Linked DNA regions of Homo sapiens: region 1 is linked to region 2. The links come from fine-mapping of genetic effects on gene expression. A gene starts in region 2. The other region holds a variant in brackets. All regions are shown on one strand. Distances are between the middles of the regions.

Region 1 (15,253 bases), 26 kb before region 2:
TTAGTCTGTTTGTGCTGCTATAACAAAATGCCATAAGCCATAAACTGGTGACTTTCAAATAACAGAAATTTTATTTCTCACAGTTCTGGAGGCTAGGGAGTTCAAGATCCAGGTGCTGGCAGATTCACTGTCTGGTGAGGGCTCACCTCCTTGTTCATAGAATGGAGCCTTCTTGCTGTGTCCTCATGTGGTGGAAGGGGCAAGCAAGTTTCCTTGGGCCTCTTTTCTCATTCACAAGGGCTCCACCTTCATGACCTAATCACCTCCCAAAGGCCCCATCTACTAGTACTATCACATTGGGGAAACAAATTCAGATCACAGCCACTGGTTTTCCCTCTGGTTTTGACATGTATTGTAAATTCCATTTTGATGTACATAAAATATATCTAAACAAATTCAGCTTTGACATAGGGGTTATCGGTTGCTCCAAACTTGTCTATCTAGGAATCATGTACTGCAAAGCTATGAAGATACCTCAGAGGATCTAAGTGTGGGAGCTTCCTAGGATGCAGAAGCATGTAGGCCAACCAGCTTCCAATGGTAAATGCAGTAAGCGATCCATCTAAATGACAAAGGCAACATGGTCTAGCTTTGGCACTGACTCTTTTGAATCATGCACAAGTCTCTCTGTATAAAACTAGTTGATAATATCTAACCTGCTTTTCATGATTCTTGTAATTACCTCAACGAGAAAAGTGATTGTCCGATTCAAGGCATGCTTGTCATTCTTCTTCATCTTATCATTCACTCCGCCACACTGAACCCCTGCTACTCTGAGGCAGTGTAAGCCAGGAGTTGGGGCTGCCGCTGCCTTTCTCCTGATGAACACCAATGGCGGGGCCTTCTGCACCCTTGGGCTCAGAGCAGGAAGAGAAGCGTGTCTTCTGTGTCTCCCCCTTCCTCAAGCCCCACACACACTCAGGGGGCACTTGGTACAGTCCCTGTTCTTCGGAGCACCCACCCCAAACCTCCCCTGAAATCAAAGATGGCTGCCCGACTAAGGAGGTGTTTTCAGTTATTCAGAACACCTAACCTCACTGAGACCAGCAGGGTTAAACAACCTGATTCTATGTCAGAACACCCTTCTCAGTTATTCAGAACACCTAACCTCATTGGATCAGCAGGGTTAAACAAACTGATACTATGTCAGAAAATCTAATTGAGTCATTGTTTGGCTTAAGTCATTTCTCATCCATTTATCCACTAGACCTCCCACAATGAACACTCTAGTTCTACGTCTTCATTTTCCAAGTTACAAAAGAAGAAGCAGAAGAAAATCTGGACTACGGCTCTTGAAGCTCTACTTGGTAACATGAAAGGGAGGATAAAAGCCAGGGAGCCAGAGGCCATCTGAAGCAGAACATCACCTACTTTATCTCAGAAGCACAGGCCTTTGTCTTCTGAATGACATTCTTCCTCCCTAGAAAATCATGTCTGGAAAATTCTTCCAAACAAGGCTCAAAACAATGACTTCAGATGAAACAGGCTCAAATGCATAAACACCAGCGAAACAGAGGATTTCGAAAATCTTTGCGTGTGTGCTGCCAACAAGTTCTTTTCTGTAATTCGTGGGATTTCAGGTTTAGCTCACATTTACCCCTTTCCTCGCAAATAAAAGTTTCTGAGGCTGCAAGCCCATGGGAGGCCACTGTCAAAGGCCCCAGGGAAGATCTCTACTACCAGCAAGAGGAGAAAGAGCTCAAGGCCACACTGACAGACAGACAGACATACAAGGTACTGTAAAGCTTTCTCCCTTGTGGCCCATTCCCCTCCTGTCCGGAAATGCCTGTGCACTCTGCTGAATGACTCATCCGAGACCAGACAATAATAAAGCAATCACGTTTGTTGATTAAAAATCAGCCTATCTAGAATATAAATGTTCCTTTCAAGTAGCTCTATTACTCTATCTGTGAAGCATGTGGGAAGTCTGCTCTGTGTCATTTTTCCATTAAAACGCAGTCCTAACAGGAGAATTCCAGCTACCCTGCAACATCTGCTCCAAATTTTCCTATGATTTATGTGACCATGAGGCCAGCTCCAAGTATACATATAAATAGGTTCTGCGAGGGATCTTGTCCTATATACAAGTAAAAGTAGAAAGATTGGTATTTAATTACATCATCAAATTTGTTTTAGATCTTGGAATGTCACATTGTCAACCAGATGTCCATATATCCAAATTTATTATTTCATGTCAGTGAGACATAAGAGTGCTTTAGTTGTATATGTTCATTGTAATTAATTCTGAACATTTTACATAAGTTATTTCCATAACAACTGTGGGCAAGAGAGAAGAAGCAGATTCTAGTAACTAACTCTGCTCTATAGCTGGGGAAACTCAGTGGCCCCACAGCAACTCAAACAACCAGCCCTCAATTCTTTTGACCCTTAGCTTACTTTTTAGTGCATAGTTTCATCTCAAAGTTATAACATTTTTTAATAAAATAATAAGTAAGAGGAAATACTGTCGTATTTGATGGGGGAGGTTGCTAAATGATAATGACACTTGGATGTCAGGACATTCCATGTCAGAGTGGCCCTCTCCTTTTGCTGGGAATTTTCTGTCAGCACAGTCTGAGTACTGTGTTGGGGGTGGACTGCCAGGGCTCTGTGGTGCAAGTAAGGAGGCTGTGCCCCTATTCTAGGTAAGAGGCTGTAAGAGCTTGGATTTGGATGCTTGGGTGATGAAAGTGCAAATGAAGGACAAAGTCTTCTTCAAGGGAGATGTAGAAGGCAAAATTGAATGTACTTAAGGAGGATGAGGGTGAAGATGGTGAGAGAGGTGGCTCACAGGCTCTGGAATGGATGGTCCAACCATTCTTTAAGATAGAAAACTCTGGGAGATACTGGGAGTTAGATCAAGAGTTCAACCTTAAACAAACTGACATGGTGCTGAAACTTCAAGTGGACATGTCAACTATGAAAGTAGAGACAGGATGCTGTGCCTTACCCCCACTCACACTGGGTCAGCTCTGCTGTTTTCTGTGTGATAGGGTAGCATTTCATGTAAAGATTTGCTGTGGTTTGAATGTTTTTGTTCCTTCCAAAATCTATGTTGAAACATAATCCCCAATGCAACAGTATTGGGAGGTATGCCTTTGGGAGGTGATTAAGTCACGAGGGCTCTGCCTTCATGAATAAGATTAGATACCCTTATAAAAGGGCTTGGCAGAAGGAGTTTGCCCCTTTTGCCCTTCCGCCTTCTGCCATGCAAAGATAGCATACCTCGCCTCTGGAAGATGCAGTGCTCAAGGCACCATCTTGGGAGTGGGGAACAGCCCTCACCAGATACCAAACCTACCAGCACCTTGATCTTGGACTTCCCAGCCTCCAGAGCTGTGAGAAATACATTTCTATTGTTTATAAATTACCTAGCTTGTGGTGTTTTGTTATATTAGCACAAATAAAGTAAAACAAGTGTTTTTTTTTTAGAAAGTAGTTCTATAAGGACAAAAAATATTGAAAGAAACATGTCTGTAAGCGGTGGGAAGACACTGAAGGATTTTAACCAGGGAAATGAATTGAATGGATTTGTATTTAAGATCCACGTGGGAGCAGTGGATGAAAGAAAGTTGAGATCCTGGTTCGGCTGGCCCCTTCCTAGCTGTTTGAATTTGGGGAAATCACTAAACCCTTGTGAGCCTCGGGTTCTTCATAAGATGGAGATAGTGCTGCCTTCTTCATCTGGCTGTTATGAGAATTATAATTAAAATGCCTAGGATAATAAATGCTTAACATGCACTGGTTTCCTTCTCCATGATGGAGTACCTGCTGATAAGGTTTAACAAGTGGGGAGGGAGAGAAGCTAATTAAGAGGTTCTAGTCATCTCCCCAGAGAGGAGTGGACAACCCCTGACTTAGGGCCAGAAGACTGCAGAGTCTAGACGGCTGGGTTATGGAGTGCTGGAGTCAGGGCAGTGCGCACAAGTGTTGGGCTGGGTGACTCCAGTGGAAAGTAGTGCTGATAATCATGCTTGGAATTCAGGGGGACGGAGGGCACTTGGGGTTTGGTCAAGAGGAGGGTCCACCCTGCAGCCATTGTACACACAACCCCCATGCCCCCATTAAGACTGCAGAGCTCTCCTCCCCTTGCCTTTCCTTGTGAGCACCCTCTCTGCCCCTTTCAGCCTCTGCTGCTGCTCATGCCTCGCCACTGAGCCCCACAGCAGCCAGCTGAGCTTTCCTGTTCTCTTCCCTCCTTTCCTGTTTCATTTCCGAGGCTCTTCCAAGCCCCCGGGCTTTTCACACAAACACTTTCTTTTCCTACCTCAGAACTTGGTTTTTGCCTCTGCACAGTCAGGGTTGCTAGCTGCTCGGGTATCATTTCTTTTCTACCAAAGAAGGGAATGTTTTCTTTTTATGGGGCTCTCTCCAGGTCTGGAGCCCTGCTGGCTTCTCCACAGCTTTAGGTAACCCACAAAATCCTCAGCATTCTGGCTGCTGCCCTGGCTGTGCCTGTCTCTCCGGGCAGTGTCTTGAGTGACAGTGGGAGGAATGGGTCATGCCTGACTAATCAAAAGCCACAGCAGGCAGCATTGCCTGGACTATGGTCCTCTGACACTTCATCCAGATGATGATGCCTTCATATTTGTTAGAAACTTCATGCCTTCTTCCCAGGACCCGGCTTCCCTAGAAGTTAATCAGGCTGGTGGCCAGTGGAGTGGCTGTGGATTCAGAGCAAAGCAGTGTGGCTGGTCCCAAAAGCTCTTTCTCTGGGCCATGGTGAGACCGCTGAAAGAGCTCCACCCCACCACACAGCATGGGGAGAGCTCACAGCCAGACTATCCTTGAACCCCCCAATCTAGGCCTTTCCGCCTGAATACATGGGTCCTTTTTGCCATCCTCTCTGTTCTTTTTCTGGGTTTTTCTGGCCAAGCAATCTCTCTTTAAGTCGGTTAACTTACCTTTTGAGGCATATCTTTGCTCTCAGCCTGGGAGCTCATCTGTCTCTGGGAGATGGCTCTACCTAAACAGAAGTCTGTAGATGTTTTCTTGGGCTCACCCTTCTCAAATCATGTTGAGAAATCATGAGACATGAGAAATCATGTCTCAAAGCATTTCCAACAAAGCTTTAGCTGACTCAGAATATACAAAGATTTTTTTCCAAGTCAACTTTATTGAGGCATAATTTATGTGTAATAAAATGTATATATTTTAAGTATACAATCTGATGAGTTGTGACAAACGTGTACATCCACATAGCCGCCACGACAATCAAGACACAGAACATCTCCATCACCCCAGAATGCAACGTTTGCCATTATCCCCCCAACCCCAGCCATGAGCAAACACCCACCTGCTTCCTGTCAATATAGATGAGTTTTGCTTTGTCTAGATTTTTATGTAAATTATCATACAGTAGATATCATTTATATCTTACACTCAGCCTACGATTTTGAGATTCACCCATGTTATAGCATGTTATGGATAATTTGTTCTTTTTTTTAGCTGAGCAGTATCTCATTGTATGGAAATAAGATAATTTGTTTCTCTCTTCACTCAGTGATAGACATTTGGGCTGTTTCCAGTTTGGTGTATTACAAGTACAAATGCCTTTTCTGATTCCTGATGTAGCACCTGGAGTAAACACGTCTGTTGCCCTTAGAGAGCTTAAAGTCTTGGCAAAAAGAGACAATTTAAATGATTTAATCCTCGTGGAATTTTATTATTGGATATGATTGGGATATAATCAACTGCAGGGAGGCTTGTAGTTGTGCTGGATGCTATGGAACCGGCAGAGAATGGAAGAGTACAGGGGGCCGGGGTCACTTCAGGGCATTTTATTTTATTGGGGAATGGCATGTGAAAGCTCCATCAAATGACGCTGGATGGAGCCCTGCCCTGGGAAGCAGGCAGAGGAAGACCACAGGGGGAGCAATCCTGGCAGGTGAGAGGCTGCAAAGATGCCGCCAGACCTGGAATAGAGAGTTTGTGTTCAGCAAGTGGGACAGAAATCACGAAAAGGCCTTGAATACTGCTCAAATTGCAGGACCTGCCACTGCCATGATGAGTGCCACTCTGAAGCCCTAAAAGATGACAAGGGAGAGTAGGAGAAGCAAGCCCAGAGGAGAAAGAAAGTGGAGAATGGTCCCCAGAGGAAGGGAGGCAAACAGGGAGCAACAGCTACGCAGGTGACTGCAATGTAAGAAGCCATCCAAGAATAGACAGTGTTTCAAAATGCTCAGGAAAAAGCAAGGTGCGGTCTTCTGGATGTGGCGGCAGAAAAACCCCAAGAGAAAGACATCATCAACATAAAAGCCTGGAAAAAATAGGGATCATAAAGATGCCAGTGTGACTGACAAACAAATTAGAGGTGTTTGTCTCTCGTACTCTCCCTTATCATCTTTTAGGGCTTCAGAGTGGCACTTCTCACTGGGGCCATCTGCAAGCTGTTCTTCGGCTCAGGAGACCATGGCCCTGCTACACAGTCTCCCATTTTCACATACTTGTTTTTATTGCTGGGTAACAAATTACCTTCAACTTAGTGGCTTAAAACAATACAGTGGCTTTTTTTGTTTAATCTCACAGTTTCCATGGGTCAGGAGTCTGGACATAGAGGAGATGGGTTCTCAGCTCACAATCTCATCAGGCTGAAATCAAAGTGTTAACCAGGGCTATGTTTTCATTTGGAGCTCAGGGTTCCCGGTAATCAGAATTCAGTTCCTGCAGTTGTAGGGCTGAGGTCCCATTTTCTAGCCAATCTAGGGGCTGCGCTCAGGTCCTAGAGGGCCGTGCAGGTCCCCTCCACGGGAAGTTCACAGCATGGCTGTTTACTTTCCTTCAGGCCAGCAGGAGAGTGCCTGAATTACATCTGCAAAGTCCCTTTTGCCATACAAAGTAACATGTCACTGGAGTGACAGCCAGTCTTATTTACGGGTCCCACTTACACTCAAAGGGAGGAGATGATGCCTGCACAGCAGGGACCAGGAATCTTAGGACCCATCTTAGAATTCTGCGCATTGCACATGGTTTTTCCTTTGACTTCCTATTTCTCCATCTAGAAAGGCAGGGGCTGTGGGCTAGGTCCTCTCAGAGATTCTGCTCTGCACCAATACTCTGAGTCTGTGTTCTCCTTCATTTTATGATTAGAGTCCATTTGGAAGCACTATGCCCAATCATCTCATCCAAAATGTGCCTTGAAGATAGTGATGGGGACAGGGGCAGAGATGACTGAGAACCACTGAAGGGGT[C/T]GCAGGCCAAGGGAGGGGCAGCTGAGTAACGGGCAGGGAGGCCTGCTCCTGGAATGGATGTTTGGTGAGTCATTAGGGCTGTTCACATACATTCTGTTTCTTCTTCTGAGCAGCGGAAGTGGGATTTTACTTCCCCATCCCCTTTGCAATTCAGTATAGGCATGTGCCTGACTGTGGCTGGTGAAATCTGAGCAGGGATGATGTCTATCATTCTGAGCTGAAGTTTTAAGAGCCCGTGTGTGTGTGTGTGTGTGTGTGTGTGTGTGAGTGTGTGTGTTGTCTCAACTCCCTTGTCCTCTGCTATAGTGACTAGCAGTTTGAGACGGTGGCTGCTTCATTATCCTGGGTCCCTGAAGGGATGCAGAACAGAACTCCAGCCAACCCGAAATGGACTTGTGGCACAGATGACAGAAATAAATCTTTGTTGTTTAAAGCCCCTAAGATTTAGGATTGTTTGTTACTGCAGCATCACCTAGCCTATCCTGGCTGGTACAAAAAGGACAGTATCACAGTTATTCTGGCTGCCACCTTCTCTTTTTCTCCGGAAACTCTTATCTGAGCCAGGTCTTTGATGCAGTGGCTTCTCAAAGATATAGCCATAGGGTTCAATCTTGATGAAAAGTGACTGTGTTGCTCTATAGTCATGTATCTTCCGTCATTCAAACTGAGCTACTCACCTGCTTGCTGAGAGAAGATGCTCTCCCACACCCTGGGCCCTCAGCCCTCATGATAAATAAATAATTTTTGTTTGAGAACAAATAAGAGTAATTAGCACATTCAGGGAAAACTGCCAGTCAAACCTGACTTGGACATGCTTTGATGTAGTTTACTTGTCATCTTGTTCTGAAAAATCTCAATTACCTGCAACCTGCCATTCCCGCTCTTTTCTTTTCCTACACCTCTAATTTGTTTGTCAGTCACACAGGCATCTTTATGATCCCTATTTTTTCCAGGCTTTTATGTTGATGATGTCTTTCTCTTGGGGTCTTTTCTGCCACCACATCCAGAAGACTGCACCTTGCTTTTTCCTGAGCATTTTGAAACTCTGTCCGTTCTTGGATGCTTCTCACATTGCAGTCACCTGTGTAACTGTTGCTCCCTGTTTGCCTCCCTTCCTCTGGGGACCATTCTCCACTTTCTTTCTTCTCTGGGCTTGCTTCTCCTACTCTCCCTTATCATCTTTTAGGGCTTCAGAGTGGCACTTCTCACTGGGGCCATCTGCAAGCTGTTCTTTGGCTCAGGAGACCATTGCCCCTGCTCCACAGTCTCCCGATGAGGGAGGATGCTGGCAGAGGTTGGCTGCCACTCAATTACCCAGACTCATTCCAAAGACCACGCAAATTTTTGTCCAGAGGGATGGTGACTGCCAGGGGGACCGATAGAGGGTACACAGGCATAGATCACCCTCAAGCAGAGACTACAACTGGTTAGGACTATGAGAAGAAATTATGCACAAGAGCGTGTCATAGTGTAAATTATGCCATGGTTTAAAGAGGAAATAAGACACAGAGAGAATCTGGCAATTATAATAATAATAATAACTAACAGTTAATGAGCACTTTCCATGACCCAAGCACAGCGTAGACACTTCCTATGGATTATCTCCTGCAGTCTTCATATTTCCTGTTGGGTAACACTAGTCTCATGCCCACAATTCGGATGAGGAAGCAGGGGCTCAGAAAGTTAAAGCAGTTCACCTAAGGTACACAGCAAGTAAGCAGAGAACTGGGATAGGGTCCCAGACAGCTGGCTTCAAAGTCCATGCTTCTACCCAGGCAAAGGGAAGAAAGAACTACACTGGCCAGAGGAGCTACCCCCTAGTTGCCAGTGTCCATGATGATTCCCTTGTGAGGAGGCCCCCCAGTCCAGATCCTTCCCATCCCACCTACCTGGAACTCGCTTCCAGCTGATTGGCTACAGGGCTCTGCCACATGATGCAAACTGGAAAAGGCCCTGTTTGAACTCTTCCCCTGCAAGAGTTCAGGCCCACAGGTTCTGGTGTGGGCTTGCTCAGCTGGAGGTAGCCTGAGGTGAGCTGGAGTTTACAGCCCTGGCTGCAGGCATCCTGCCGGGTTGGACTGCCTTGCTTTTCAGAGTAGGGGGAATTGAATTATTATTGCATCAACTCCTCCGACACTCTGAGAACTATGGCCTCCCTCATTCCTTCCTCTGTGGCTTTTCTCTGCCCATAAATGAAAAGCAGATTGCCTCACTGGTGCTGGATGCTCAGAGCAGAACCGCATCCTAGGTGTGGAAGAGCAGAAATGTTTCTCACCATCTGTTTCTCGTTGACTTCAGTGGGGCCATGCTTAGACAATGGGGCAGTATGCAGCCTGCATGGGGTGTGGCCCCACAGGGTGACCCCATGGCCTGCTGGCTGGCAGGCTGGGGAGTGGCCCTCCTCTGCCTTGAAGGCCAAGAGGCTGGGGAGCTTGTGTTTCCTAGAGTGTGGGGGTGGTTTCCCCCTCATTTGGCCGTTTCTTCTTCCTTTTCTTTCTAGAAAGATGGATTTCAGCTGTTTTCCCAAGACTCATAGTAACCTCCTAGTAAAGTCGATATTTACTGTGTGTGTGTCTGTGTGTGTCTGCCTGTGTGTGTGTTATGAACAGTGTAAATGTATTCTACGTTTAATGCAGAAAACCTAGAAGAATGAAAAGAAGCAAAAAGTAACAGCCCCATTATCAAGATTTTTTTTTGATGTGTTCTGTCAGTGGTCTATTTTTCTTGATTATTTTTTAGCATCATTAAAAAAAAATATCGGGACCTAATGCACGCTGCTGAGTTAGGCAGTATTCTAAGTACTTCGCAGGGGATAATTTCAGGTTGCATATAGTACAACCCTATGAGTAAATAATTTCATTAACAGCATTTTTACAAATGAAGACACTGCAGTTAAGAGGGGCAGGAGCTCCGCTCAAGATCACCCAGGAAGGTGTGGTGGGACCAGGACTCAGGACTCAGTTGCAGGTTGGGTAACTCCAAATTTCACAGCTCATAACTACCTCCACCGTACACACTATACATGAAATGCAAGGCAGTTTGTGTCCTGTTTTTCACTAAGCAGTAGATGGGGACTATTCAACCAATAGTCCTGTATGCATGATTTTAACAGCTGCGTATATCTCATTACATAGATTTAGCTGAACCTGTTTAGCCAATCCCCTGACTTTGGGTTGTTCCAAATGTTGTCATTATAATGCTGAGATGATCATTCAATACAGATACCCTTAAGGCTATATCCATTGATTTGCCAGTAGTGGAATTTGAGCTAATAGACATGCATGATACTTTAAGAAGTTTTGAAAGATGAGGGAAATTGCCTTTAAGAAAAGTTTTACTCTTTGCAACACTAAGCATTATAATCTTTCATTTACGAAAATAGCAAAGAAGATTTTTTTAAATGCATGATTCCTTTTTATACCTTTCATTTTTTTTAGTGATCCAAATAGGAAACTTTTTCATTCATTGTCAATTTTAACTTAACCTTCTGTAAACTCAATGTTCATGCTCTTCACACAATGTAATTTATTAGGTAATTTATTTTTACGTTGATTTGCAAAAGCCTTTTACATTAAGGATGTTGATCCTTTGCCACCTGTGTTGCAAACATGTCTCTCGGTTTGTTATCTGCCTTCTTATCTTGCTTATGATGTTTTGTATTTTTGTGAAATAGAGGTTCAAAAATGCTATGCAGCTAATCTATCAATCTTTTTCTTGGTACTTTCTTCCTACAGTATTTTATTTTTTAAAGTTTTTTTTCTGTCTTACCTAAAATATTAAGTAAACCTTAGCATTAAATACAGATATTGTCCTATTGTTTAAAATTGAAGTTGCGGTTATTTTATTTTCTAGCACAACAATTACAGAAAGTATTTATATTCATTTTTGGTCATTTTTGTTTATTAATTTTTAAACCACAATCTTCTGAATATATACATCAAGAATAGCAGGTAAGAAATGAATGTACCACCCTGCTCCCTTTTTCCCCAGGTTGGGTGTCACTCACTGACCCCTGCATTCTCTCCCGCAGAGCTCAGAAGGGGCTCAGAATCTTGCTCAATACAGTAATCCTCAATGCCACAATCCTCAACACAGGTACTCCTACAAATTGAGACCCATAGGTCTCATCATCCTTTATGTTTAACAATCATTAAGAAAGACCTACACTGCGTAATAGCTTTGGTGGCCATCCGTCATTGCAGGTGATACTTCCTAAATTGTAGGGTGAAAGATATGGCATAAGAAATTAATTTCTTGGTCTTCTTATAAAATTTCAGAAGCCAAGGACAGCTTAGGGAAATAGCAAAGGGCTAAGCATAAAATCTCAGAATTCTCTGATAACACAGTCCAACTGGACTTTTGAATTTGGGATCTATGCTCCATAAAAGAAGAGCTGCATATCCAGAATTCCCTTTTTGTTGTTGTTGTTTTTTGTTTTCGTTTTTGTTTTTTTGAGACAGAGTCTCGCTCTGTTGCCCAGGCTGGAGCACAGTGGCGTGATCTCGGCTCACTGCAAGCTCTGCCTCCCGGGTTCACGCCATTCTCCTGCCTCAGCGTCCCAAGTAGCTGGGACTACAGGTGCCCGCCACCAGGCCAGGCTAATTTTTTTTTGTATTTTTAGTAGAGATGGGGTTTCACGGTGTTAGCCAGGATGGTCTCGATCTTGTGACCTGGTGATCCACCTGCCTCAGCCTCCCAAAGTGCTGGGATTACAGGCGTGAGCCACTGCGCCCGGCCTGTGTTCTTCAAGTTTATTACCTCAGTCACTAGTATAAGTCTATTTCAAGTCCTTGAATGTCTAAGAATGTCTGTCTGTTGCCTTCATAAGGCTGCAAAATTACTGGATCCTAACTTTCTTCCTTCAAAACTTTCTAAAGCCTGCTCTATACAGGGTGGCAAAGGACAAGTCTGAAGCCAACCAATTTTGTAAACTTTGAAAGAGGTATTTTTTTTCCCTCAATGCTCATGACATGAAAACAAATTAGTCTTATAATTCAAATATGTTGCTAGAATGTGTTTTAGCCCCTGTGACACAGTGAGGCCTCTCTGTCAGGGATCCCCTAGGCCACAGGTCCATCGCTGTTTGGAAACCCACTAAAATGACTCACAAAACTCAGCTTAAAGTGTACTCAGCTTAAAGTGTACTCATAGCCAAGATTTATTACAGCAGTGTTGTAAGGATATATGAGTGGCTCATGAAGGGAAAAGGCACAGGCAGTCTGGAGGAATTCATGTGCAGGTTTCCTCATGCTCTCTCTCACCCATTAGGAGTCACGCACAGCTTACTCTTCACCAGTGAGAAAAATGAAACAACGTATGCATGATGTATCTGTCTAGGGAAGCCCATCAGAGACCCATTACACAAGTTTTTTTTACTGGGGTCTGATCATGATCATGTAGGTCCTTCTGTCTAGCATGAACTAAAATTCCAAGAGAGCAGGTGTTTAGTAGCAGGCCTTTCTAAGTATTGCAGTCTTCAGGCCTGCTCGGTGAACTCTTTTCTAGACAGCCCCCTTTAAATTTATTTTTTTTAGAATGCTATGGGCCATTTCGATTTGCATACTAAGGGCTGTTTTCTCTAATGATATCTTTGATTATTGCTTTCTTCCCACTTGAGTGGGTTTCTTTCTTCAGAAGTTCTGTAATTCTTGGATATAGCAGGACAGAGAAGGAGGACCGAATCATCCTGTCCTTCCTCATCATTTTCATCATTTTGCTCTTCTCCTTTGATCTCATTCTTGCCCTCCACATTACTGATTCACTTTTCTATGGTGTCAGCTCTGCTCCTTGTTGACTTAATTTTTTTTTTCAGATATTGCATTAAAAACATTTTTAATTGCAAACCTGAGTACTTTTTCAGAAGTTTCATGATTTTCTCCCCCCAGTCCCCACCCCTCCACCCCTCCTCAAATAGTGAAAGGTCTATCTAGACCCACTGATTTATAAAAGAGAAGTTTTAGGGGTTTGTACTTGTCACTGCCCTTGACATCTTGGGTGTCTATCAAAAGCCTTGTTAAATAAACAGTTGAGCAGCCGATTGTGGTGTGCAGCTTCTAGTGCTGTTCTTAGTGACCACACGTTTTTGTTTACTGAACGTCTGTTAAACTGAAATCCATCTTCTTCTACCCCACCATGTAGCTCCTTGACATGATACAGAAATGGAATGTGTAGAAAGGGCAGTGCCCTGGCATGCCTCCCTCCAACGTTGCCATCGTGGGCTGTGGCTGCAGTGCCGTGCCCATGGGACTCTCCTCCTGGCTACTGTGGAACCCATAGTTCCTCCCTGTGCATCTCCAAGGCCATGAGGAGGGGGTCCCGTGCAGCCAGGGGGCCCCCCGGGAAAGCACCCGAGTTTTGCATGGCACAGCCCTGTGTTCCTGGTTATAGGGGCAGGTTCCCTGGCACACAGTGTGGGTGGCCCTGAAATGAGATTTTCAATCCAGCTTCTTGCCTGGCCTTAGGTTGAATCTTGATCTTAACTCACAGAATAACGTTTTTACTTTTTTCAACATCATCTTGGATATTTTCAGGAGAAGTTGGGAGCAGCTTGGTAGGAGGCTATTAACCAAGAATCATTTAAAAACTAAAGTCTTGAGGAAAATTCTAACTAAGGGGCCACGGGGGATCACAAAGAATAAAATGCTATAAGCAACCGAGGGAGTAGTCTCATTAGGGCGCTAAGACAGACACACGTATCATAGAAAATAACTAACAATACCAGACGGTGTATCACGAGGGTGCCCTGGGAGCGTGGTGGGCCGGGAATCAGGAACACCGGCTCCCCTTTCGTGACTCCAATACGGACTTGCTGTGTAACCTCAGATGAGGCAGAGCTCCCTTCTGGAACTCTCTTGCCTTGTTTACAAATGAGGGGATTGGTCTAGTTTCCAGTGTGCCTCCAGCTCCAACATTCATCATCTTTCTCGGCTGCTGTGATTCAGTGGGAACACTGCAGAAATGAGGGACTGGCTGACCTTGAGCTGAATGGTCAGCTCCAGGGGCCAAAGGAACAGAAACAGCAGATACTTCCCAGTGTCCCGCCTTTGTGCCAGGGAGAATCTCGTGTGCCCCCAGAGGGCTGCTGTCTCTTATGCCCCATTCCCACTTCTCCAGCTTGTCTCTGTTCGATTTCCTCAGAGGAGCTGGCCCATACATTGTATAACTTTTCACTTTACAAACATTTGATCTACTCAAGTCATCTTGCCTCTGTGTATGTGTGCACCTAATATAGCAGAAAATGGATTTCAGGCTTCCTTTTAAAAGAAGTCAATTATCCCTCTTATGACTGATTCATAATTTAGCCATAAGGAGCTGGACGTTACTTCATTCTGACAATGAGCCATGATCCCTTTGTTAGGCCAAGTTTAGACAAGGAATCTAAGGCACAAGTGAGTAACTCCTGATGCATCAGGGTGTGCAGAGACTCCTTGAGTTCCAGAGACCTTGAGGCCTAGTCTGGAGCCTCCAAGTGGATTTTTTTCTCTTCTGTTCAGAATTCCACATTCTCTACTGTCTGACATGTAGAGGTGAGTCAGCCTCATGGTAAAGAGCAGAGTGGCACCCTGCTGTTTGGCACGGCTGGTCTTAGGTGTGAACCCCCTTGGGGCAATAAAAGGAAGACCTGGGACCTCAGGGACTCCTGTACTCTGTCCCTCCACACATGGGCACGGCTGGCTGCCTGTCGTCCCGAGTTCTCTAAAGGCAGGAGCCCCCCGATACCCTCTACTCTGTCCCAAGACATCTCCTTGCCGCAACCCAGGACAGGAGGGGCAGTTAGCTAACTTAGCAGATTATAAAATAGCGCCAAGACCAGATATTCTACTTGATGCAAAATGCACTTGAGAGGCGTAAATAATTTAATTGGCTGTTGTCACGCAAACAGGATAATCACAAGTTCTCCCAAGTACTGGTTGTTCCAGCTCCCTCTCCTTTCAGGACAAATTGCTCACACTTATCCCACTCACATATACCAATACTTTAGGGAGAAAGAAGGGCAGGGAGAACTGCTTTCATAATTCCCAACTGTGAGGTGTTGCAAGAGGGGAACGTGTACAGGTCCCAAA
Region 2 (15,253 bases):
ACCTGCAAGGGATATTCATAACCAGTGGCCTTGGGGCTGGGGCTCTGATCCTGTGGGATGGATGAATGGCAATGGATGGCTTGTCTCATTCTGCATTTCCTGTCCAAGACCAAGGAAAGGCACAGGGTTGGCAGGAGGGATGAGAGAGCAGGATTGTCCATTCAGACTCTGGCTCTATCATGGACAGGTCAGATCCAGTCACCAGTAGATGGACTCGGCCTTTCTTGCTGTCCCAAAGTGGCCCTTGCTAGCCATCTGTTCTCCTCTTCTCACACCCTTCAAGGCTTTCTGATCAAGTCCACAAAATTGACTCGTGCAAATGACACTGGGAAATAAGCTGTGGTCACCAACAAGTCAAAACCAGCTGAGATCGGATATTTCTTTTGAGGCATGAAAACAAAGATTTTTGGTAATCTTTTAGAGCATTCCTAGCTGGAAACTTTTCCCGGAAATCCATAAGTTAAGTGCTCCTTGTGTCCTAGAGAGCAATGAAATTTATTCTTACACCATCCACACCAACTGAACGCTAGTTATGATAGGCTCTAAGGTGGTCCATGATACCATCGCATACATAGGTAAGCTTACTTCCTGTGTGTCTGCTGGAGAAAGCTGTGTTTATGCCAAATGAATTTATGTTTCCAGTTTTCAAAATTCAGAGCTGATTTTCCCTGGTTTGTGGCAAGCGGGTTGGCCAGCAAATGAAAATCAGCAGGAGGAGACTTTCCCAAAAGTCAAAGGAGGATGGAAGCAGAATGTGAGAAGTCTGAGCTCAGCTAGCCTGGTCTCCAAGCCTTGGGCAACATGCAGCCTGCCTGGTACGTGACCAAGGTCTGAGGTCAAAGGTGAGATTCCACACACATGGAGACAGGCCAGTTGAACCATGCCAGAAACTACCACTTCCTAAGTGCACATCTTTTCTCTACTGAAAGCAGACCCAACTGTCCTTAGTGAGTCCTTTAATATGTCTGTTTTGTGTCATGCGTATGTGACTCCTCTTAGGCACCCTGAAGTCAGGAACAATCTTCTCTCACCTCTCCCCTCCAGAACACTAGCGGAAGCAACCATTTCATCTATGATAAGAATAGGACCCTGAGCTGACGACTTCCTGCATATCATTTCCTTGGTGATGAGATGTTTTTACCCCAAATCCAGCCGTGTCTTTCCCTGTTGTTTAGGATTATTAGATGTATGCACTTTTCTACCACCTTCTTCTTCAAGAGACATCTTGCACTGAGGTTCTTGTGTCATTTGCTGTTCCTAGCGTATGCCAGGTAAACATTCAGCAAGAGGCAAATGCTTTCAGCCACGTGAGACCTCTGAAAGGAAAACACAAGCAGGCCTTCTGCCGGAACCAGTAGCCGCCTGCTGTTAGCTGGGGAGAAAGGACTTTCATTCGTTTTTGTCATCAAGCTGATACTGTGCCAACACCCACATCTGGAAACAGTTATCAAGAAAGAAGAGGCATGCAAGCCTGGGTCTCATGACCCTGCAGCCTTCCTTTCTGCTGCTCTATTTATTAACATACTGATTTAGAGTGATCAACCTATGTCCCCAGAGTAAGTTACAGAAACTAAATTTTTAAAAGGCCACTGCCGTCACACCACTTCACGAAAACAGGCCAAGGTCTAACTTATGGGGTCTTGGATGGAGTTTGTATCTAAATAAACACATTTTAAAGTTGCTTATTGTGTTGTACTTTAATCACTGAGCCAAGCCTTTTTAAGCTTTGTCTTGAGCTCTGTGCCCCTCCTCAGCTTGGCAGAACTCTGTCCTGTCAGTCTCAAGGGCTTGATAGAATTTGTACTTATTGGATCTGGACACACAGATAGAGGAGTCTGTTATTTGCACATCACACAGACCCACACACACAGATACACACTTGTTGCCCTTCCTTGCCTCCTTCACTGTAAGTAACTAGAAATTTAAGAAGGAACCTGAATTATGTTTGTGTAGCACCAGTGCTATGTGATGTTAGTTGCTGATCGTGCCCCAAAGGTATAAATAGACTCCACAAGGGCTAGGGGCCTACCTTGAGGCTTATTGGTTTTGGAGTTTGAAAAGTGCCCACAGAGAAGACTTGAACCTATCTTTGAGAAGGACCAAATCAAGTCATAAGATATTTAGTAGATCTCTCTACAATAGAGGGAGGAATAAACGTGGCCATTAAGAGTGAATACAGAGGAAAGCATTTCTTTCAGGCTTATATATGTCTCAGGAATTGTAAAGCGCTAACAAGAACCAGAAATTCAGACCAGCAATCCTGTCTCTAGTACTAACCCCGTCTCCGGTTTCTGTTTTGATGAGTTGCAGTCTACCTTGATGACTTGGCTTCACTGTCCACCAGATGATGAATCATCCCTTCTGGGAAGAATCTGGTTTCCCTCCGGCTACCCCAAACTCCCCCCGCCAATCCTTGCTACCCTCCCACCCCCGTTGTGTGGTGTGTGGTTGGGTACTTCCCTTTGGAGTCCTTTTGGGTATAGCCATGCATTTGGCACTTATTTCATTGTATATGTGCCTGGCTCCCCACCAAAGAATGACTCACTTGTGTCTAGAACCGTAATAAGCAGCCGACTGCTGGGCTCCTAACATGAACTCAGTAAATATTGGTAGAATCGATCAAGAACCACTTTCTGGAGCAAGCTGGTTGTTCATATGTTGTCAGTAGTAGTTTTTAAAAATAATGTAGAATAACAGGACTAACTGAACTTCTGGTTAGACTGTTACTTCAGGAATGTGCTAACTAACGTGGGAAAATCTTTTCTAGGCACCCTGGAGGTCATTTTAATTTTTTTGTTGTCCTGGGATTTTGGTGTATCAAATGTTCATTGAAATGACCGTGCCACGAGTTTGAAGATTTCTCAGGCACATTTAATTGCTATTTCATCAGTAATTAAATGAGGAATTAAAGGTTGTTGAGGATTACTAAGCAATTCTAGTTGATCCACTGAAAGGAATGCTGATTCATGGTCATCTAGAGAGTGATCCAGCAGCTCAGGTCCCCTGTCTGTCTGGAGAAGGGGATGAGTGGCTGCGTGCTGGCTGCTTTCTTCCCCAAGCCTGCCTCACTTACCACAGCAGCTGCTAGAGTCTTGCTCAGTGAAAATGTGTTCAAGGGAGAAGGTTTGAAGGTTGTATTAGTTCGTTTTCATGCTGCTGTTAAAGACATACCTGAGACTGGGTAATTTATACAGAAAAAGAGGTTTAATGGACTCACAGTTCCACGTGGCTGGGGAGGCCTCACAATCATGGTGGAAGGTGAAATGCATGTCTTACACGGTGGCAGACAAGAGAGAATGTGAGCCAAGCAAAAGAGATTTCCCCTTATAAAATCATCAGATCTCATGAGAGTTATTCATTACCACGAGAACAGTATGGGGGAAGGTACCACCATGATTCGATTATCTCCCACCCGGTCCCTCCCACAACACGTGGGAATTATGGGAGCTACAGTTCAAGATGGGATTTGGGTGGGGACGCAGCCAAACCATATCAAGGATTTTCCAAAAATATGCAACTACCCTAGCTGGGGAGGGGGTGCATAGTGGTTTAGGTAGGACAAGTACTTAGGGCTGGGCTGCCTGTGTTCAAGTGCTGGCTCTCCTACCCACTAGCTTTGTCACCACTCCAACAAACTTCTTCACCTCTCCAGCCTTGCCTTCTTCATCTGGAAAACAGAAAAGAGAACAGTACTCAACCCATAAGAGTATTTTAAGGATGGAATGACTTAACACATAAAGGTATTGAGAATAGTACCTGACATTGGTAAACTCTTATTTTTCTTTAATAAGCCAGTATTCTACGTGGGCACATGCATGCACTGTTTTTTTTTTCCTACTGTTTTTTTTTTTCCTTCTGCTTTCTTCCCTGCATCATTCTCAAACGTATAGCCTTTCCTAAACATAGCCTCATCTGGAGGAAGCTTGGAGGCTAATTCTTGCTTTTGTTGTCTTTAGAAGCAGAAATCATTCTAAACATTTGTATCTTAACTACAGAGCACTATGTGGTTTATGTAGAGCACAGCATTCACCCCATTCCTGTCCCAGTGAAATATGAGGAGTCCCATGGATGGAAGACTGAGGAAGAAAATGCTGGGAAAGACTGGGGAAGGGTGTGTTATGGCTGGCCTGCCACTGGGCCCAGTGCCCAATCGTTAGATGAGGGGCAGTGGAGGGTCCAGAGAAGTCTGGGGTGGGTATCATGGGGCACTCTACATGGGGTTTAATTTTTGTCCTTTCATGCCAGGGCAAAGGTGCTGATCTGGACAATGAGCAAGTTCTAAAATGTTAAAACCAGCAGGCAAAATATGGTGGCTCTCATCTCACCAGCTCTTTAGCCTGCACAAATTAATTTCTATACCATGGATTTGAATGTCCAGGGTGTTTTGGAGTAGGGTGGATCGGGTCAGGATAGCAGCAAATTCTTAGGAATTTTGAAAATGGCTCTCAGGATGGCTGCTGTGGAGCCATCAGTCATGGCTGCATCAACCCTGCTTCCCCTTTCTACCTTCTAATGCTGGCACAACATTGCAGCTGGGGAAGCAGAGACTTTCTTTCACCTAGCATGAGGGAGCTTCCAAAGGATCAGGATGTGATGTTGGGAGCACCGGCCCCAGAGAAGCTCGATCCTTCTCCTTCGTGCTGGGACTTAAGGCCTGTGCTAGGGAAGCTGGAGAGGGAGCCAGGTCCGATGTTCTTTAAAGCCCTTCAGAATCCCTGCCTGACCCAGAGGGCCACGCAAATGAGTCTAGTCCACAGCATATGGTGGAGCAGTCACCTACAGCAGAGCCAACAAATGTCTTTGTCTATTCTGACCACTCTATTAGAATAAGTGTGAATTATGCTAGAAAGAATTTAGGAAGCCAGTCAACTGATGGATCCGCAAATGCTAACTGGGCTCCGTGCTGACTTATTAGGAGGCTGTTAGAGAATCAGAGGAACAAACACATGGGCTCACTGTGATGACGGATGTTAGACTTCAAAAAGGAGAGGCTCCATCCAGTGGGAGAGCCACGGAAGGGAGACCAGCTGAAAAAACAGCAGCCCAGAGAGGTGAAGGAATTTGCCTGAGCAAAGCTTCTTAGCAAAGCTGGTTTTGGAGGGAGAGTATCGCATACGTGTGTAGAGGCAAAGAAGGAGCACAGTGCTCACTACACGGGGAGCAGAGCAAGGCTGGGGGTGGGGGGCTGAGTGGGTGGAAGAGGCACAGGCTGGCCCTGCAAGAGCCCAGGCTGAGACTGGGACACAGGGAAAGCAGGTTACATGAAGCAAAGGGGGAATTTTGCAGAGGACTTTAGAAGCCAGGTACAGTAGAAAGAGGGCAATACATGGGAAGTTCTTTCAGTATAGGGATTATGGATGTGTGTGTTCCTCTTATCTAGCCTTTTCAGTATTTTTTAAGGTTTTTCTTTTTTTGGTAATGTGCCTGTATTCCTTTTTAACATGGTGGGGTGCTGGGGAGGATAAAATGTTCATCAAAAAAATAAATAAACAATCAGAGAAGTCTGGATTTTCTTTTACAAACAATAGAAGCCATCGGGAGTGTCCTAGGAGTGCAGTGTTTTGGTAGAAGTGTTTTAGGAAGATAAGACCAGCCACGTTGGGAGATGGTTGGCTGGGGTGGCAGCTGATGTCAGACTGGCTGGAGGCTGTGGGTGGTGAGAGGTAAGGCAGTGGGGAGCTGGAGTATTTGAGTAGCAAAAGAGGGAACAGAAGCATCTAGGAGAGATTTGGAAAGAACACCTGCAGGATCTTGGTGACTGATTGCACGTGGGGGACCAGAGAGCAGGGACAGGCAAAACTGAATGCAAGGTTTCCAACCTTGAGCGGCACCACAGGCAAGAATGAAGAAATGAAGAAGGGGAGCTGGACGAAAGAGCCAAGGGATTTCTGCATTTTGGAATGAATTGCTGCTGGGTGGTGTCCATTTCCCTGAAGGCCTTTATCCTACGTGCAAGAAAACTCGTGGGAAGCAGAGGAAAGGCATGTGTAAGCCAACAATCATCTGTGGGCATCCTTCCACTAAAGTATTTGAGGTCAGGCAACTAAAGCAACCTCAAAAGTGCCTCTGGATTCTTCTTAGATATTTTAGCTGAGCCAAATCAATGAAACTCTCATGAAAAATCGGTTTCCCTGGAAAATGAAATTGGGTTCTAACCAACAAGTAGCATTTGGCAGGCCCTGATTAAGAAAGCCAGTGTTTGGAGAAGTTGTGAAAACAGCCAAGTCATTTAAGAAACTAAACACTGGGGCCTAATGCCATTCTAGGGCTGCGACGGCTGTTCTGTTCCCATCAATTGCAGAGCCCGAAGCCTCAAGTTTGTTTTAAGTTCCTGCCATTACAAACCTGTCGATTATCCCAGCCTCCCTTGCGGGCTTTGAAAAGAGAGAAGAATGGAAGGTGACTGTGGCCAATTTCCCCTCCCTGTCCAGTGTGTGGAAGACACTGAATATGCAACTACTGACCTTGTGCCTGGGCATCTTGAAGGTCTTCCACAAAGTGAGCTGGGCCTCAGCGGAAGATGAGAGTTCCTCTGTGGTCACTTCACTGGTACACATTTTCAGGTGTATTTCGTTTCTTCCATGCCTACATAAATTGAATCCTCTGTTAACCACCTCTGAGCTCATAGCTATTTAACATGACCCTGTAGTCCTGTGCATACAAATCACCTTGGGATCTGGTGAAAATGCAGATTCAGTGGGTCTTGGGAGGTTGGGAGGTTATAAGATTCCACGTTTCTTCATGAGAGCTAGAAAAAATAAATAAATAAATAAAAAATTTTTAAATTTTCCACATTTCTAATGAACTCTGGGGTTGTGCTGATGATGCTGTTTTGCAGATCACATTTTGAGTGGCAAGACTGTGGAAAATCCTTGAGAAATCAATCCAAAATCCCCTAAATGGTACTACAATCACACCTTAATGTTAGTAAACTGAGATGTTTCTTACCTTTATTTGTAACATGGAAAAAACAATTACTGTATATGAAGTACCATTCTAAGTTCTGTGTGTTACACAAGGGATGGCAATTTTCCCCAAAATTTGATTCACATCTTTTCATTTGGATATCTCTTGCCAAAACTCACCTTTTTTTCTCCCTAGCAAGTCTTGGGGAGCTGAATTTTAAGAGCTCTTTATTTAGCTATATGGTGGCCTCTGAAAATGATTTTGACTGTATCTTCTGTCTCCATGTATGCCCAAGCATCACCAGGAACTTTAGGGAGTAAGGAAAAGGCAGGCCTGGTGTCAGCTGGGCTGCAGATGCCAGCTCTCCCACCAACAGGCCCAGAACCAGTTTCTTTCCTAGGTTCCTTTGTGAAGAACTTGTTGGAACTACTAATTTATCATGATGCATAAAGCTTGTTGTCATACCCTACAGTATTATTTTCAAAACCTGAATGTTTTTGGTGACCTTTCATGTGCCACAAAATGTAAAAGCAGTCATTTTTTAAAAAGTGCTTGAAAAAGTCTAGTAAAGATTCTTCCAAGCAAGCCTCACTTTCTCCTGTTTAGATTGTTTAATCTGGAAGGAAAAAATTCTTTCTCAAATGACAGGGTTTCTGGTGCTCTGTGTTTGCCTGGTTGGCTCTGGGTCATCTGGGGATGGAGGGTCCCTGCTCTTACCTCCAGCAGCATCACTCTTGTCTCCAAAGAAGCAGCAACCTCAGGTGGGAGAATGGTTATACTCACAGCATTCTGCTTTTCATGTTTGAAAGAGGGGATGGGTGGTGGGGCATGGATGTGGGATTTTAAAAAAATATCTAAACCATAAATAAAGTATTACTGCAATCTCTTTACTGAGCTCATGGAAAAACTCAAGTCATCGAATGTTAGTTTTGCAGACTGGAGAAGTGAGGTCCAGTGAACTTGCTTGACTTGCCCTAAATCTTGCTAGAGAGAGAGCTGGAACCAGATGGCAGGGCTCCTGGCCTCTTACATACAAGGAGCATTTTTCCTAGAAACTGCAATGCAGCCAAATTCTACTGGTCTCAGGGGAAACTTGTTCTGGGAGTCAGCCTGAGCTTGAATCCCTTTGGGTTCTTCCCATTATCCTATGCCAAGCAGTCATGCTGAAACCGAGAAATGTTTTGCTTTCAATAAATGAAATGAGCATTTTCAGATAATTATTTCTGTAGTTGCTCAAAACTATCATATTGTTTCATTGAACCCTACTATATAGAACAATGACTGGGGAGAGGTAATAATAATAATAGCAATGCATATTTATTGGCCATTTTACTTGAATTGTATCATGTAATCTAGTTTAGAGTCCTGTGAGGTAGGTTTTATTATCCTCTCTATGAGGTTGAATAACTTGCCCAAGACCACACAGCTAGGAAGTAGAAAGACTGGTATTTGAACCCATCTTCTCCTTTTCTTCTCCTTCCTCCTCCTCCTCTCTTCCAACACCTGCTCCCAAGGAAGCTCATCCAGTGCATGACTTTAGCTACCACCTGCTCGTAGTGGTGACTCAAATCTGCATCTCCAATCCTCATACCTATCCTGAGCTCAAGACCTTTGAATATAGCTCCCTCCTGTCCATCCCTCCTGGAAATGCAGGTGGCTTGTTCACACATAATGTGAACACAAATGGAGCACTCTCCTCACACACCCAAATGTGCACCTTCACCAGCGTGCCCAGCACAGGCATCCCTTCCTGCCAGCTATGAGCCTCGAGGTTAGCTCTACTCCCCCTCCCTAACCCTGCATGCCCAAGGGGTTTCCAAGTCTAATCAATGCTACCACTAAAATCTCCCATACACCTGTTCCCTCCTCTCCACTAGCTTGATCACTCCCCATGCAGGCCCTCAGTTGCTTTATGCTCTCAGTAGGCCCTCCTCCAGTGCCCACACTCTCTCCCTTCTCCTTCCCACCTTCTTTCTACCAGAGTTCTAACCTCTCCAAGCCCCGCTTGTCTTTTTCTTTCCCTGGCTGCCATCCTAACTCGCCCCTTCCCTTCTCAGACAAGCTTCTACATGCTACTCATCTCTCCATCAAACCACCATATTCGGGCTTTGGCCATCTGCTCTCCACAGCCAAGTCCCCAGTGGCCTCTCTGCTTCTGACACAGTGAAAGCCATTCAGATCTGTCTTGTTGGCAGCATTCCTCACTTTGAGCAGCGCCCTCCTACTAGGATACCCCTCCTTGACTACAACCCCACATTCTCTACTTCCTGGGCTCTTCTGTCACTGGAGGATGACTCCCAGGTGTGAATCTTCATCCCGCGTCCCTCACTCAAGCCCCCGATCCTCATATCCAGCTTTATCCTCATGGGATGCTTCACCAGGATGAGTCATAAGCACCTCAGACTCAGGGTGTCCCAAACCACTCATCTACCTGGCAAGCCTGCACTCTGCATGTGCCTCATTCTGAACATGGCACCATCACCTGCTGCAATGTCCAGACCACAAACACCCTACAATATCCTTGACTCTCCTTTCTCCCCTTCTCCCTGTATACAGACTCCAAATTCTATTGAGACTATTACCTCCTACACCCCTCACATTTGCCCAGCCTTCCCCATCTCTGCCTCTACCACCATAGTTCAAGCTCTCCCATGGTCCCTTCCTGGTTACCTGTTCTTCTTGCCTCCTTAAGCCTCTCATGACACTGGCCATGTCACTTGCCTCCACCCATCACCCGCTAGGCTCTTAGCTGGAGTCTGGGCCCTGCTACCTTCCTCCCCTTCTTCCCTACCCTTGACTCCACCTCCCTGTGCTTCAGCCAACCAGATAACTTGAGTTTCGTGAATGCATGCCTCAGTTTACCTGATTAACTCATTTTCATCTTTCAGGCCTCAGAGCAGGTATCACCCTGTCAGGGCCAGGTGCCTCTTCTTAGCTCCCAAAGCCCCAGCTACTCTTCATGGAACATCATTGGCTTGGGCTACGGATCTTCCCAAATTGGAGCTTTTTCACAAAGGGCTTAGGTCTCACTCATTCTATTAATCCATCTGTGTCTCCCCAGGGCTAGCAGTGCCAAGTAACTGACAGGTGATTAATAGATGCTTGGGTAAGTATCACCTCTTTACCATGTGACAATTTGTTTACCTGCCTTGAGCTCCTCCAGGGCAGGACTCTTGCCTTTGCAGAATCTATCTGGCAGGTACTGTTGCAGAGATGTTTACTGAAGAAGGGAATGAATTAGTACCAAGGTGAGGACCCCACCCTTCCCCACGGGCTCCAAAAGCAGCTTAGAGCCCAACAAAACCTGCCCCACATTTTTGGCGTTTCTGTGGATCACACGATTTACTCATCTGTCTTTCAATGAGCATGACAGGTGGGGTGGGGGTGGAGGGATTAGAGATTGAGGAGCTGGGGAGGGTGGTCAGCTCCTGGGGTGCAGAAACAAGTCTGATGGGCCATGGTGTTCTGGGAATCAGCACTGCCTCCCCTCACCCCTCCCTGCAGTGTTTTGTAGCCTCAAGATCAGTGAGGGAATCTTCGGGCCCCCAGCATGCAGGACCGAAGCCCCCGAGACAGCTGTCCCTCAGTCCCAAGGTCCCCATTTGGAAGCAGCCACAGGAGGCCTAAGGGACCTATACCCTTGGTTTGAGGAAGACTGTGGCGAGGGAGAGAGGGAGGGAGGGCTGGCAGTGAGGGCAAGGGCTGGGAAAACTGAGCACGGGCACAGTGCGGGAGCGGGTGGGTGCCCAGGGCAGCCAGGGGCGCACGGGTTGGGAGGCGCCAGGCGGCCCGCCCTCCTTGCACGGGCCGGCCCAGCTTCCCCGCCCCTGGCGTCCGCTCCCTCCCGCTCGCAGCTTACTTAACCTGGCCCGGGCGGCGGAGGCGCTCTCACTTCCCTGGAGCCGCCCGCTTGCCCGTCGGTCGCTAGCTCGCTCGGTGCGCGTCGTCCCGCTCCATGGCGCTCTTCGTGCGGCTGCTGGCTCTCGCCCTGGCTCTGGCCCTGGGCCCCGCCGCGACCCTGGCGGGTCCCGCCAAGTCGCCCTACCAGCTGGTGCTGCAGCACAGCAGGCTCCGGGGCCGCCAGCACGGGTAAGCCGAGCCGCCTGGCCAGGGGCTGCGGAAGGTCAGGTAGTCGGGGCTCGGAGCGCAAGCCGCTGGGGGCATTGAACTGGGCTGGGGGCGCAGGGGACAAAGCCCGAACTAAAAACCTTGCAGCATGGAGCGCTCGGACACCAGCCCTGCACGCGGTGGAAGGAGAGAGGGAGGGAGGTGGAGGACCATGGAGGGAAAGCGGGAGGCCGCCGCTTTGTAGAAGGGAGTGGGGAAGTGGACCAGAGACTTTCGACGCAGGCCAAGAGCCTGAGACGGACAGCGCTTTCAGCTTCTCCTCCCAGCCACTGCAGAAAGGGGGAAATGGCAACTCTTTGGCCATAATCACCGTGGGAGGGTGCCAAGGGCAAAGCCCACCCAGCAGTACACCTATTCCAACCCAGCCAGGCCCCCGGCCAGCGACTCCAGACAAGAACCTGGGCCACACACGGTGGCAGCATCTAAGGTGCCCCAGGCTCCTGTGCTCCTGGCCAGGCCCTGCACTCAGACACTGCTGGCACCCGACACTGCTCTCTGGGTACAGCAAGGGCAATGTGGCACTTCTTGTCCTGCCCGATGAAGAGCAGGAGAATGCACTGGGCCCTCACACACACTGTTCAAATGGGGAAACTGAGTCCTGAGTGGTTCCACTTTCCCACAGTCCTGAAGTGTGCACTGGAGCCAGGATTGGAGTCTGTCTTAAAGTAATAGCTGGGTTTGTAAATGTAGGACACTATCATTGCAGGAATTCCTTTGAGACCCTGAAGATGTGTTGGCTTTAGGAGACAAACTCAAGCAGAAGGTCTGGTCTGATAGTGGCCCTAATACTGACCCAGGCAGAGGCAGGCAACATTTCTACCTCAAAAACCAGGCCATACCTGCGTCACAAATACCCAGGCTTTGCTGCAGCTTCCAGCCTACCTGGTTGCACCAACTTCTTTTTCATAACTAGGTAAAACTATATATGAGTAGAATCTTGTAGTGACTCCTCAGAGGAAGCCTAAATACCATCGGGGTCTGGCGTTCACACCCACAAGCAATGCCCAAACCTCCAAGAGACTGGGCAGATCTGTGCTCAAATCAAAACTCATTGTTGGGGGTGATAGAGTTGACTTCACAGGCCCTGAAAGTCTTGGCTCCTTGCACTAGGAGTGCTCTGGGTACGGGTACAGGCTGCCCCTTGTAGGGCATAGTTGCTCTTGTTTCCTCTACTTGTGGCTTTATGGTCTAGGCCTTTCAGGAGTTTGGGGCTCTGGCGGAGAGGGCCTGCTGGGAGCACATCTGGCCACCCTGCAGAGTGAAATCAAACCAGGCCTGGCTGCAACCTCAACACCCTCCTGGAAAGAGGAGAATACTGGGGATATCCTGGGGTCTTTCTGGAAGTGGGAGAATCAGCTTTGACTTGGGCAGTGTGCAGAATAGAGTGAGGGGGGATGTCAGAAAGATGAGAGGGATATGAGGCCTCAACATCAAAATGCAAGCACCTGGCATTTTTATTATCTCTGCCCACCTCTCCGTTGGTCTCTCTGCCTTTCCTGCCAATGAATTGTGTTATGTTTGGGTGCCTCAATTTGCCTAGGAGGGTTCTATTTCTTCTGTATCTTCGCCACTAAGTCAGGAGAAGATCCTTATAGCATGCCCTGCAACAGTGTCACCTGTAAGGGCATCTCTCTGCACAGCCACAGTGAAGGATCCTCAAAGGTATTGAGGGCTTTCCATCAAGAGCCATCTTTACAGCAAACCTCTTTCCCTTCAGAGCCCAGAAGAGTGCTGACCAGCTGGAAAACAGGGTTTTTTTCTTAAATGCAGATGCTCTTGATTATGAGTTCCAGATATTAGATCAACTTCCCCACCATACCCCTGCAGGCAAAGCCTCTTAATTAGCTTCCTGCAGCACAGCTGGAAAGGCCTATTGTAATCTGTGATGGGCAGAGTAATCTAAGAAGTCACAGGAGCACCCCTGTCCCAGTAGAATCTGGATGCGCAGGCACATGAACCATGGCAAAATGGTTGCAGGCACAGTTGTATTTACTCTGATCTAACTGTCCCTGTTAATGCCACAGGGCTGCCTGGCCTGGCACACAGGGCTGTGGCGCCTTGTGCAAATGGATAACGTTGTTCTAGCTCCAGCCTTTCATTCAAAGTGAAAACTGTTAGAAAGGGAAGGAAAACTTTGCTATTTTAAGGAATTGTAGCGTGCTGCCTGATATGAAGGAAGAAATAACAGCTGTGCCTTGCTTGTGCGCAGCACTCGATTGCCGCTTTTGCTTTCGACCTCACCACAACACAGTGAGATCTACTGTTCATGTTCCCATTTTACAGGAGGTGAAACTGCAGCTTAGTGAGGTAGAGAGTGACTTAGTTCAGACACAGAATGCTGTTGGGAGAGTAATAACTATGATATGGTCTCTTGACTCCCAGCTATATCTGTGTTGCTATAGGGAAGGGGAAAAATAATACTGAAAGAGAAGTAAAAATACAATCACACTTCCAAACATCAACCACCAAAAACTGAACTGAATTTCCTGAAGCACTTGGTTTTCAAATCTAAGCTGAACATCAATGCTGTTATTCTTGAGGCCCAGAAGCAACTTGCTCATTTCAATTAAGCTTCAGCATGAACTTCCTATGTACACAGCCCACCCACACTCCCCGATGTGAGAAGGAGAGGGTCACAGCCGCCCCCAGCCTCTGCTGCTGCCACAAGGACAGCAGCAGTGGAAACATTCAGCAAAGGAATGTTGGAGCCACATCCACAAGAGACTCACTGAAGATTCGCCAAACGCCTACGGAAAGTGGCAGGGAATTCATTGACAGTAATTGTTTCCTGCTTGATCAGATTGAAGAGCTTCTGGGATTCTGTAACAATAAATAGGACCGGGGGCTGGAGTATGGCCAGCAAGGACTCTTCAGGGGTTATTCAGGGACTGTCTAACCTGTGAATCCTAGGCAGCAAACAGAAACCAGGTATTCAGAAATCTGGAGGATTTGGTCAGGCCCAGCTAGGACTAGGGAGGCATGGGCCTCTGCTGGCTGTGGTCCCTTCTCCAGCCTTCACTTCTCTTGTCCCTAGATCCTTACATGGATTCATTAATGCTCATTGTCCCTCCTGGGCCCACTCACTTTCACCTGTTGAACAAAAAACTGGCCAAGAGGTGACAGTCATATCACCGCAGAAGAGACAGGGCAGAGAAATGAAGGGGCAGAATGGACTCCCACCCAAAAGCCTGACTCTGAATATTTGAGAATTGTTCAAGTTCCTGCAGAGGAATCATGATGGGGACAGTAGGTGTAGTTTTTACTGCAATATTGGTGTCTTCTTAACAAATACGCTGCACATCAAGTGATGTCTGTGGATGGCATTCTTAAAGTAACAGGGAAATTGATGTTAAAGAAATACTTCATCCTTTGGGTGATACCTGAAGTTCTCTGAGCTTGGAGGTCTTGTGAAAGCCCTCAGTATTGTTTGTTTTATTTGCTTTCCTCTGACTTGTGATTCAGTCAGATGCATGCCTGCCTCTGGCTCAGGAAGATCAACCCTCTCCTGACTGACCACGCCTCTCCTGACTGACCACGTAGCACAGCAGCTTCCTTTCCCTAGGGGCTCCTAATGAAGCTTTCACAATCACCTGGCCTGAGCACAGTTTGGGTCAGGACTTGGTATACTTGAAAAAAACATGCAAAACCAAAATCCTGTGGTTCTGGAAAAGGCTTCTTAGCAGAACCCCCAGACATTTACACTCTGCTTTTTCACAGGGTCCCTGAGGATTCTTTGGATCTGGGTAGTTTGGGGAGCAGTATTTTCAACAAGTTCATTTCGTGCTCCTTCTACACCCTGCCTGGATGCTAGGCCCCATCTAGAATGTGAACAACAGAACAAGGCAGAACACTTGTCCTCAAGGTTCTGTTGAGTGTTAGATGCAGAGAAGAGACACCCCCCACCTCCCCGCATCACTTACAGGAATTCTGTTTGGAACCCAACATCAAATAAGGACCGTATCCACTGTCAGAGGATGGGAAGCAGCATGTCATCTGGGACATTGGAGAAAGGCTCCTGGGGGAAGTGGGACTTGAGCTGTGATCTAAGTAATGAACAACTGAGAGTTAAATGGGAGAGCATCCCCTATCAGGGTCCTGAGAGCAACCAGCCATGGTTTAAACCAGCTATAAAGCCTCGGGTTTATAGGATAGACAGTAACAATGGCTTGTCTTTGGGAGCCAAGCAGCTGGTCCAGGCATGCAGAGCATGTCTGTATGG

Evidence for each region.
Region 1: its variant is fine-mapped to the expression of TGFBI in whole blood (TOPMed, PIP above 0.99).

The regions. Positions count from the first base shown.
Region 1 is chr5:135,992,283-136,007,535 of GRCh38, forward strand. No RefSeq gene overlaps it. Among named protein-coding and RNA genes, the nearest start is that of TGFBI, 29 kb to the right of the region's middle. RefSeq lists an enhancer at 9,084-9,585. The variant C/T (reference allele first, on the strand shown) is at 7,191.
Region 2 is chr5:136,018,195-136,033,447 of GRCh38, forward strand. It overlaps TGFBI (transforming growth factor beta induced), which reads left to right and starts at 10,794. Exons shown (of 17, transcript NM_000358.3): 1 at 10,794-10,995. The coding sequence starts at 10,862. It overlaps LOC105379189 (a long non-coding RNA gene), which reads right to left and starts at 7,699. Exons shown (of 4, transcript XR_948809.3): 1 at 7,624-7,699; 2 at 6,669-6,748; 3 at 6,465-6,585; 4 at 3,364-3,667. RefSeq lists an enhancer at 13,011-13,080.